3 linked regions of the Homo sapiens genome follow. The protein of the gene in region 2 interacts with the protein of the main gene of each other region in a pairwise test. Each region holds a gene or a part of one and is shown on either strand. Other genes may lie near its edges. The genes, in order: ARL16, GLYR1 and CFAP206.

Region 1 (3,749 bases), on a different chromosome or scaffold from region 2:
GGAGACCTAAGAGCTGCACACAGGATGCAGAGAGCTGGGTGGGGTCAGAGGCGTCCATCACAAACTGGGGAAAAAGAAAAAGACAGCAGCAATGCCCCGCTGCCAAACTTCCTCCCCTGGGCCTCACAGACCTGGCACTGGGAGAGCAAAACTGCATTTTTTAATTAATTAATTTATTTTTTGAGACGAAGTCTCGCTCCGAGTGCAGTGGCACGATCTCGGCTCACTGAAACTCCGCCTCCAGGGTTCAGGGTTCAAGTGATTCTCCTGCCTCAGCCTCCCAAGTAACTGGGACTACAGACACCCGCCACCACGCCTGGCTAATTTTTTGTACTTTTAGTAGAGACGGGGTTTCACCATGTTAGTCAGGATGGTCTCCATCTCCTGACCTCGTGATTCGCCCACCTCAGCTTCCCAAAGTGCTGGGATTACAGGAGTAAGCCACCGCGCCCGGCCCAAAGTAGCTTTAAACAAAGCTTTGGGAACAAGCAGAAGCAGAGGGAATCGAGTTTTATGAAGACGACCTGGTGTCACTCGTCTCTGTCCTCATGTGGCCATCAGTTCTCCATACTGGTATCCGCGGCACAGGCCTTATCAAGATGAGACCAACCAGAGGTACGTATAAGTCCAACATAAACACAGACGTACCGGGGAGTGACACAGAGGGCCAAGTCTGTTCTCTGCGGAGCAGCAGCCCTGCCCTCAGCAAGCCCTCTGTGAGCTCCTACCGGGGGCCTGGGAGCGCAAGCACCAGAAACCAGACAGGGTGCCCAGCAGGAAGCAACACTAGCTAAGACCTATTTCCATGAGTAGTATAGTCACTAAATAACCCAAACCCCTTTCTACACACAGCAAGGTTGGGGACTGGACGTCACAGAAATGTAGACACACTTCCCTAAAGGAAGCCCATATAGGATTACAACCCACCAGGAGAGAACGGCAGTTTCCATAGTAACTGGACCAGATGGGGCCCATGCACCCCCCAAGCTCCCGGATGGTGATCTTTCTCTGTGCCACGATGTCAGTAAGATTGGTGCCCACCTATAGGAAAAACCACGATGCAAAAAGAACAATACAACCGCTGTCCCGTTGTGAACTCCTGAAGAGCACCGTGCCCACACCTTACACGGTGGCCTGAACCCCGCAGACCCATTCTCCCTAACGCAGGAACGGCGAGCAGGGACCGACGCCCATCAGTAGCTGGACTCGCTGTGGGGGCGACCAGCCACAGGAAGCCGTTGCGAGGGGAGAGGAAGTGCCCGTGGAGGGCGGCAGGCCCCCTCATCCCGCGCCAATTATCCTCAGCTCGGGCCGTCCCCCGCTCCCGAAGGCTGGCCTTAAGTCACGACCTGACCCGCTGCGCCTCGGCGTGCACTTAGAGGAGCCCGGAGCTCTTCGCCAAGCGCAGAACTGACCCCCCGCAACTCCACCCGCGGGGGCGGACACCTACCGTGGGCCGTGTCGGGGGCGGCTCCCCCAGGTCGCCTTTCCCATCCCGGGAGCTCACCTGTGCGAAGCGGTCAAGGACCCGAGCAGCTAAAGGGTGAGTCCCCGCCCCACTCCGGGTGCCCCCCGCGCCCCGGTCCCGTCCCCGCGCGGAAGGATATCCTGCAGCCGTTTCACCAGCAGCGTCTTCCCGACGCCCGTGGCCCCCAGCAGGAGACACATTCCGTGCTTCGCTCCACCCGGCACCCGTAGCTCGGCGCCGCGGCTCAAGGCCCGCCCACCGGCCACTCTCATTGGATAGTTCTCACCTTCGGACTTCTCATTGGTTCTTAGGGCTCATTGTTCCAAGGGCGCGTCCAATTAGCGCGCAGCGTTAGCGGGAGAGCGGAAGACCCCGCCTCCTCGCGGCTCTAGGGCCGGCGCGGTGACGTGCGCGTGCGCGCACTGGAGGGAAAAGGCGGAAGCGGAAGTCGGGGGGCGCGCCAGCTCGTAGCAGGGGAGCGCCCGCGGCGTCGGGTTTGGGCTGGAGGTCGCCATGGGGCGAGGCAGCGGCACCTTCGAGCGTCTCCTAGGTAACGCGTCCCCACCCGACGGCTCGGCCTTGGTCAGCCCGCAGCCTCCGCCCGGCGCTGAGTCAGCGCGGCCCCGAGGGCCCGAGGGGCGCGGACCGGCCGCCCTGCCCGCCTCTCCCCGGCCCGCTGTCCTCCCGGGTTCGGAGCCGCCGATCCTGGACCCTCGGCGCGGCCGTGGGGTCGGCGTCCGTCGGGCGTTGGCAAATGGGGCTCTGCGAGGGTCCGCGCAGGGCGCCAGGGGCGCTCGGCGACCTCGCTCCTCCGCGGGCCCGGGCATTCGGCCGATTTCCTCTTGACCGACGAGCACCCGGCCGAGTGGGCCACAAGGCCTGAGTCATGAAAGTGGGTGACTCAGTCGGATGTTAGGCTCGCACTTGGGCTTCTGACCCAAAACACTGGGCCTCGAAGGGTGGAGCCGGCAGTGTTCTCTCTGGGACCTTCGAGCTCTCTTGGGGGCTGCGGGTCCCAGACCCACCTTTTGTTCCCACACTGGCTTCGGGAAGTGCCTAATGGTTTAGGAAGGCGTTTTCTCACGTTTTTGGAGGTGAAAGCTGATCCTATCTGAGCCTCCTGGAATTGACGCGTTTTGGGAGGGAAACGAATGTTGATGTGCACGTGCCCAGCAGCACGTGGAAAATGCGTCTAATGTTTGGGGGTAGGAGCTTGGGTGGTCGAATGGGCTGCCCAAGCTTGCCTTTTTGTCAAGTAGGGTTTTCAAGGAGACTTCAAGTGAGACACCTTCCTTGCCAAGGGAACCAGCAAGCAGACTGAGTATCTCAGCCACACAGGTAGTTCAGTGCTTCAGGGATGAATCCAGAGGTTAACTACTGAATCAGTATAGAAAGTGGACGTGGCTTGGCTTGTTAGATCGTTTCTGTATCCGGGAAAGGCGATGTGGGCAGAGCTGGAGCTGCCCCCCCAGAGGGGCCAGTTGTTGGAGACAGCAGTGATGTGGTATGATGACAGGTATGCTGGCGAGTCCTCCTTGGAGCCCCGTTCTGCCCTTATTTCCAAAGCACTTGGCTTGGAGCAAGGGGCCTGGAGTCTACACTGCAGGCCTCTCTAGCCCTTGCCCAAGCTAAGGTCCCATTGAAACCGGGAGCATCTGGGCGAACGGGGACTCCAAGGGACGGGTGATAGGGTTCTTTGTTGAGAAGCAGCCGAGCCTGATGTTTAAGAGTGAATCAGCCTCTGTCTCTGGTGAGCTGTGTGACTCACGGCAGTGCCCTCGCCTCTCTGCTGAGTGTCTTTACCTCGCTCGCGGGTTGTGGGAGGGCTTGGACCAGCACCTGGTGTGCTCTTACGCTGTTTGCTGCTTCCCTGGGGAGGATGGCACTTCCCTGCCCATCAGCACGCTCAGGAGGATTCTGTCATGCTTTTTCATTTGGTCCAAATGTCTAAAGGGGAAGGAGAGAGTCCCCCCCAGCTGCTGCCAAGCTGGGGTGCTGCACGGGGCGTCCAGCAGGATAACCCCTCCCTTTCATGGCATTTTCTCTCTCAGACAAGGCGACCAGCCAGCTCCTGTTGGAGACAGATTGGGAGTCCATTTTGCAGATCTGCGACCTGATCCGCCAAGGGGACACACAGTGAGTTAGCGGGGCCTGTGCCCTGATGCGGAGGAGCAGCCGTGCACTAAGCTGGGCTCGCTTGGTGCCCGTTGGGTCTCCACGACGTAGCTGACCGTGTTAGGCTCTTATGTGGAGAACTGCATGGGCTACATGCTAGGATTTT
Region 2 (3,749 bases):
TTTTTTGTATTTTTAGTAGAGACAGGTTTCACCATATTAGCCAGGATTGTCTTGATCTCCTGACCTTGTGATCCGCCCGCCTCGGCCTCCCAAAGTGCTTGGATTACAGGAGTGAGCCACCACGCCTGGCCGGAATTTTTTTGTTTTGTTTTTTTGAGACAGAGTCTTGCTCTGTTGCCCAGGCTGGAGTGCAGTGGCGCAATCTCAGCTCACTGCAAACTCTGCCTCCCGGGTTCATGCCATTCTCCTGCATCAGCCTCCTCAGTAGCTGGGACTACAGGCAACCGCCACCATGCCTGGCTAATTTTTTTTTTTTTTTTTGAGACGGAGTCTTGCTCTGTTGCCCAGGCTGGAGTGCAGTGGCACGATCACAGCTCACTGCAAGCTCCGCCTCCTGGGTTCATGCCGCTCTCCTGCCTCAGCCTCCCAAGTAGCTGGGACTACAGGTGCCCGCCACCGCGTCCGGCTAATTTTTTTGTATTTTTAGTAGAGATGGGGTTTCACCGTGTTAGCCAGGATGGTCTCGATCTCCTGACCTCGTGATCCGCCCACCTCGGCCTCCCAAAGTGCTGGGATTACAGGCGTGAGCCACCGCGCCCGGACTGGAATTTCTTAGAGACCAACAACTAGAACCAGATGTGACCATGTCAATGGCTCGGCTGAACACACACCTCCCCTGTGGATGCTGCCCTCCCCTCAGAACATATGTGGGTCCCAAAGTCCCCACTCCCTTATTTGGGCCAGATGCTCGGGGAGGAGGGATGCTTTGCCAGTGTCAAATGCAGACAGCTGCTCAAACCCCAATGCCAGGCGGGCGGCCTGGGTTGCTTCTCATCATAAGGCTGGCAGCTCCAGGACTTGATGCCCATCCCAGCCATGCAGCGACTGCCCATGGCTGTTCAGACTAGCTGCGGTTTGAAGGTGGAGCACGGGATAGGCTAGTCCCAAGGCTACTCGCCTCTCCTCTTCCCTCTCTGGCTTTGGCTCTAGAGTAACTTAACTGCCCACTCTTGTAAGCCTGGGTCTTGGGCTCTGATAGAAAAGATGCTGGAGAGCCAGCCCAAGGAAGGCTGCTACCTGGGCCAGCTCAGTGACGGTGTCAGCGTCCACTGTTGACATGTCCACGTAGCACTTCCCAGGGCGGATCCCTTGCAGCACACCACTGGGGCCCAGCACCAGCTGTGGGGACACAAGGGAGAAGCAATAGCCCAGGCTCCCGGGCAGATGCTCAGGAGCCCTACAGACCTCAGATCAGAATCCTGCTGCTGTTTTGGCTCATTTCCTGATTTCTATCAGCTGAAAAGGGAAGAACAATGAAATAAGCAAGGGATAGAAAAGTACTTCCCGCATGCTCCCATTTATCTTTAAAAAGAATCTATGTGAGTGTGTGCATTTCTTTTTATTTAAAAAAAAAAAAAAACAAACCCCATTTAAAAGAATAAACCTCAGCATTTACTTTGGGGACTTCTTTGGATTTACTTGGATTAGGCTAGTCACCAGTTTAATAAGATGACTACCACACTTGAACTTCTAAAATATACAAATACAGTGACAGCTAAACATAGAAGCTTGGCACCTGGACCAAAGGCACATTCAGTTCCAAAGCTTCTAGTTCAACAAGAACACATGAAGCCTGTTCAAGACACATTTCAGCACAGACTTCAAGGGCCCTAGTAGTGTTCATTCTTTGATCTGAATTAAAGGAAGTCTGTATTCAATTAATGCAAACACCCTTCACAATGGGAGATGGCCCCTGATGGGAAATTCAGCCCCCCACATGTGGACACTCACTTGGTGTGCAGGGGAGGAGGGGAAGAGGCCAGCCAGCAATCCTGGCTGTGACCCGGAGTTGCTGAGGGGAGGGAGGGGGTCCTTACGTCCTTGGCCGCCTTGGGATCCGACACGCAGGCGAAAGTGATGTCGCAGGTTGAGACGACTTCAGCGGGGGTTCTTCCCAGACGGGCCCCCTCCTGGATGAACAAATCACACTGCAAAAGTCACAGATCCTAACGTGAGCTGCAGGCAGTGCACAACAAACATGCCAGCCAGGCCAGAGAATTGCTGACCAGGCCTCCTGGCGGCCTACCAAGGCAGGAGGCTGAGGCCGGGAGCCTGGGTCATGGAGATAGGAGCCCAACTTTTGGGGAAGTGCACGGGGCCTTTTACTGGCCATCTTCAGTTTTTGCATGACGAGTGCCTAGGATGATGAACTGCTTCACAAGTGTCTGCTGAAGGTATGCTGTTTCAAGAATGGGGTATGAACAGTAGCACCTCTCCCCAGCCCCCGCTGTGCTGTCCTGGCTGTGGCCCTGAGCTATCAACACTCTGCTGGGAATGTGGGGATGTCGCTGGAAGCCTTCCACCTGGTGGCCATTCGTTTTTGGGTTGTTTCTCAACACTGTTGTCAGGTTAATAAGACTTCTGGAAGTGCCTAAAAACACTACCATTTTGGCTTTTTTTTTTTGAGACAAGGTTTTGCTCTGTCACCCAGGCTGGAGCACAGTGGTGCAATCATGGCTCACTGCAGCCTCAACCTCCTGGACTCAAGTGATCCTCCTGCCTCAGCCTCCTGAATAGCTGGGACTATAGGTGCATGCCCCATGTGTGATTTTTTTTTTTTTCTGTAGAGACAGGGTTTCACCATGTTGCCCAGGCTGGATGGGCCTACTATTTTCTATCAGACTTTTAATGTTGTTTATGATTCACATTTATCTATATTGTTGTCTTTCATAATTCTGGCATAATTATGGTTTATAGTGGTTGACTATGGAAAACTTCACTGAGAGATATACTGTGATTTACCTAATGGCTGACCTGTAGTTTGACACTTAGCCCACTTTCAATTGTAAAATCACATCACCAAACATCTTTACGTACAAAACTTCTCTATGTTTTAAATTCAGGTCTCCACAAATAGAATAAAACAGGTTCTAAAAGTTTTAAGGCTCTCAACAAATGTAGACAGATGACTTCCCAATGAGACTATGTCACTTCATAAAGATCACCAGCAAGCTCTCCTATTATGCCAGTACCAAGTATGTAATTTAAAAACTACAAATAAGTGCCCATAAATACATGTAAAATTCTTCCTACCTGATCATTTAACCAGTCAAAAAAGGCAACTGTTTCATTTTTTTTTTTTGAGACAGAGTCTCGCTGTCGCCCAGGATGGAGTGCAGTGGCACGATCTCAGCTCACTGCAAGCTCTGCCTCCCAGGTTCACGCCATTCTCCTGCCTCAGCCTCCCGAGTAGCTGGGACTACAGGCGCCCGCCACTGTGCCCGGCTAATTTTTCGTATTTTTAGTAGAGACGGGGTTTCACCGAGGTCTCGATCTCCTGACCTCGTTATCCCCCAGTCTCTGCCTTCCAAAGTGCTGGGATTATAGGCATGAGCCACCGCACCCGGCCTTGTTTGATATATTTTAATTACTCCTGATTACCGAATATTTTTTATGCCTTTGTTTCCTCTTTTGTGAGCCATTTTTTTGTCCTTTTTCTTTTCTGAGACAGGGTCTTGCTGCTGCCTAGGTGGGAATGCAGTGGTATGATCACAGCTCACTGCAGCCTCTACCTCCTGGGCCCAAGAGATCTTCTGGCCTCAGCCTCCCAAGTAGCTGGGACTATAGTAGGCAGGTGCCACCTCACTCAGCTAATATTTTATTTTTTGTAGAGATGGAGTCTCATGTTGTCCAGGCTGGTCTCAAATTCCTGGACTCAAGCAATCCTCTTCCCTCAGCCTCCCAAGGTG
Region 3 (3,749 bases), on a different chromosome or scaffold from region 2:
CTGTCTTTTTCATGTAGTCCTTGCTGTCTAATTTACTTGCCATTTACTTGTATGGTACAGTATTATTAACTATCTTTTTAGCATTTTTAAAATCTACCTAAATATATCATAAGATAATTTTATAGTCAGAAATTATATCAAATGTTAGACACTCAGTGATTATCTGTTGTTTGGAAAGAATATCTTCTCCCTCCTTTTTACTGTGACCTAAGTACCTTAAACCTCTACCACTCCCTCCAACAACGTCAACAATGTCATGTCCAGCACCATCATGTCTTGTTTAGCCTGGAATTAGTGAATTCTTAATATTGGGTTCCCCAAAAGAAAATCAGTATATTCAACTAAAAACAAAGCAAAAACCTTGGATAATAACCTGCTATGTATGCATAGCTTGAGTTCAACATATGTCTTAAAGAGGTTTTGATAGTTCAAATAGATGTGATTTTTACCTAATAAAGCTATTTTCAATTTCTATCCATTTTCAACAGGTATTTACTCATGTTATCAGTTGTGCAAAGTGGGGAGGGATATTTGACTTGGGAATGAGGGATGTTTTCTCCTTCCAAAATACATGTTCTACAGAAAACCAAACACTGCATGTTATCATTTATAAGTGGGAGCTAAAAATTGGGTACACATGGACATAAAGATGGGACCAGTAGACACTGGAGACTGCAACAGTGGAAAGAGTGGGAGGGGGGCATAGGCTGAAAAATGAACTAGTGGGTACTGTGGTCACTACCTGGGTGATGGGTTCAATCCTGCCTCGAATCTCAGCATTGTGCAATATACCCTTGTAACAAACCTGCACATGTGCCCCCTTGAATCTAAAATAAAAGTTAAAAAAAAACACCCCCTACATTAACAAAATCACGAAGCCATAATTCCCAGAAAAACAATTATATTCAGCTCATTAATTATGTGTTTATTTTCTTTATTGGTATTTACAAGTATATTCCATGTCCAAAAATTATTGTTTTTTAAGTGTTTTGTTAGTTTTAGCTAAATATTTTAGTTATCAGTAAATAATGTTTATTTTTTACAAGCACTAACTACAAAACTCCACTTCTTTAGATGAGAGATGCTGACAAACATTATATAAAACCAATTACAAAATGTGAAAGTAGCACACAGACGAATACACACATACTGCCACCAACGATTGTGAGATCATATGAGTGGAATGAATGGGAATTAAGAAGAAAAGCTATAAAATTGGTTTGTAACAATACTTTCTAGAATTATTTATATGTTGGGGAATTTTAATCTATTGTTACTCATAGAGTTGGTAAATTAAATTATTTATATAAAATAATGAGTTTTATACAGAGTTCTTTGCTAACAAAAATATAATTTATAACTTGCTAGGTTTACATTATAAGATTGTCTTCTAATTTTAAGCATATATAGAACAATGATAATATCTATATATCTATCTGTCTATCATCAGTTTTAAAACTTGGTGCTAGTATTTAAAGCACTCCCAACTTCCTTTAATCACTTAAGGTATACCATTCTTTTTTTTGTTTGTTTTTTGGACCTTTTCTATTAAAGCATAGATATTTTCCCCTCAACAACATATTATCTCCAGACCCTGGGCACTCTCATCCTTCTGATTCTCAGTCACCTTAATTACAATATAGATACCTACCCTTAAAGCCTGTCTTTGAAACTCTCATCCCTGTCCAACTGAGTGAAATTACCCCCACCATCCCCTCTTTATGGTATCTTGTCATTTTAAACAACAAATATTTATAGTATGGAAAAAATAAAATATTTTGTCTGTAGCCCCTTTTTAGTATATTTTATCCATCTCTTTAACTGAAATCAGGTGTGGAAATAAACAATGCCTACCCAAATGAGAACAAAGCAAGGCTATTTATTTAGAGCTTACTGTAGCAAGGGAGTCAGACACTGTCACTTGTGTTTGGTAGACTCAAAGCATGCAGGGGAGTGGGAAAGCTTTATAGTCAGAAAAGGGGGAAGCCTTCAGATGTTCTCTGATTGTAGTTTGTTAACATGAGAAAGCTGGAAGCAGGCTAACTAGAAGCAGGGCATTTTATGAGATTGGTTTGGTGAGCATATCTAGGTTTCTCTGGTTGGTCCTGAGTTGGGGCAGAAGGGGCCAAAAAATGGAGAAGTTGGCTAAGTCTTCAACATTCTGGGTCAACTGCTACAGCTATAGAGGTTGAGACTGGCTTCCCTGACTGGTTGATGTACAGGCTGCAAGTCAAAGAGTTCTATTGTCATATATGGTCTAGCCTTTGTCCATTTGTATATTCAGTCCATTTGTATATTCAGTCCCACTGACCACATTATTTCCTTTGCTACTCACTCTGGTGGCAGCTTTTCAGTTCCCTGGCATGAGGAAGGATCAGTTTCCCCATATATCTTCCAGATCATTGTTCCATTAGTATTCCTTCCTATCAGTTACTCTCCTGTAGTTCATGAAATGCCCAACCCCCATATTATTTTCTATTATCTACTAAACTCACTTGAGTTCATTAGATTTATTGGGTAACATATATATCCCACTACTTTGTTCTAGCAAGTGATACTGTTACATTAAAAATATTTCAGTACCTCCTTGTAAGTGGTACCTCCTTGTAAGTGGTGTAACAGAAGTGAAATGAAAATTCTACTAAATTAACATAGGTGATATTTTATGTTGCTTTTGAGATACAAATAGGCAAAGAGGAGGAGGGAAGTGATGGCTGGATAGGATAGGAGAGATAGAGGTGACAGCATAGGTATGGACTGGAAATGTTAAGAGAATGGGGTATTCAGGGGTCTGAACTTCATACTGACTGAGCCCTCTCTTCCCATTCCTCAATCTCCACTTAATTCTGACTCTCACCTTGGGCCTTATTATTCCCTAGAACTGTATTATATTGAATGCCAGCTCCCCAAGTGTCACCTACCTAACCTGTGGATAAGACAAAGCTGAGTTTATTGCTTACAGCCATAAGGGAAAACACCACCTCAACAGTGCTTTGGCAGTGTCTCAGAAGAGGAACTGCAAAGTCAGAATTGATTGAGAATTTGAAGTTTGCTAAGGCAGGTCTTCCAATGACTGAGGTGGACTGGGGGTAGGATGGAGGTTTGAATCGGATTGGGTAAGGATCATGAAAAAGCAGTCCAGCATTGGTGGGAATAGCAAGAAGATTTTTTGAGGCAAGGGATGCAGACTCTTAGGACTGAAACTGTGTTTTGATGCTTACTACTGAAGAGTTGACACATCTCTCAGGTACTACTGAAATGAGCAATCAAGTTATTTGCTTAGGCAAGAGTCTCTTGGAATGGTAAAATCATGCTAATGAAGACAATGGAATAGTAAAGTCATATTAATGTGGACAATAACCTGGGTATTGGGGAGTAGTTTCGGTTCTCAGTCACCTGCAGTATCTCAAACTCTGAAATGTTTCCTCTAATTCCAGGTGTCACCTTCTTCACTCACATGCTATAATGCCTTTTGAGTTTTTTCTTGGCTTTTACTATAAGTGCAGCAACCTTATTCTTCTTTTTATAAGCTCCTCCTTGCTTCCCAGCCTGAGTAATCTGTTTAACCTCATGTTTACTAATAATCTATAAAGGGAGTAAGCAAAATGTAGAATACTGTAAAATACAAAATGGAAAGCATCAGACTCTTTTATGTTAAAAATCTAGGGTGAAGTCCATTTTTAAAAGATAATACTGTATAAATCTTATATTTTTGTTAAAAGAAAACAAGTATAGTGGAAAAATCCAAG

The links.
Region 1: the proteins of GLYR1 (region 2) and ARL16 interact in binary tests that used the Homo sapiens proteins (3 or more experiments, as listed by UniProt).
Region 3: the proteins of GLYR1 (region 2) and CFAP206 interact in binary tests that used the Homo sapiens proteins (3 or more experiments, as listed by UniProt).

What each region holds. Positions count from the first base shown.
Region 1 is NC_000017.11:81,682,086-81,685,834, forward strand, and holds the start of ARL16 (ADP-ribosylation factor-like protein 16), read right to left. Parts: upstream 1,713-3,749; 5' UTR 1,669-1,712; coding exon 1,608-1,668; exon of another isoform or gene 1,510-1,607; coding exon 1,451-1,509; intron 1,042-1,450; coding exon 928-1,041; intron 591-927; exon of another isoform or gene 158-590; coding exon of another isoform or gene 65-157; coding exon 1-64. Other genes in the region: HGS (hepatocyte growth factor-regulated tyrosine kinase substrate), read left to right, coding at 1,982-2,018, 3,520-3,604. UniProt on the Homo sapiens protein: May suppress the RNA sensing activity of RIGI in a GTP-dependent.
Region 2 is NC_000016.10:4,812,660-4,816,408, forward strand, and holds part of GLYR1 (cytokine-like nuclear factor N-PAC), read right to left. Parts: intron 1,989-3,749; coding exon 1,878-1,988; intron 1,297-1,877; exon of another isoform or gene 1,180-1,296; coding exon 1,078-1,179; intron 1-1,077. UniProt on the Homo sapiens protein: Cytokine-like nuclear factor with chromatin gene reader activity involved in chromatin modification and regulation of gene expression. Acts as a nucleosome-destabilizing factor that is recruited to genes during transcriptional activation.
Region 3 is NC_000006.12:87,459,948-87,463,696, forward strand, and holds part of CFAP206 (cilia- and flagella-associated protein 206), read left to right. Parts: intron 1-1,074; coding exon 1,075-1,218; intron 1,219-3,749. UniProt on the Homo sapiens protein: Essential for sperm motility and is involved in the regulation of the beating frequency of motile cilia on the epithelial cells of the respiratory tract. Required for the establishment of radial spokes in sperm flagella.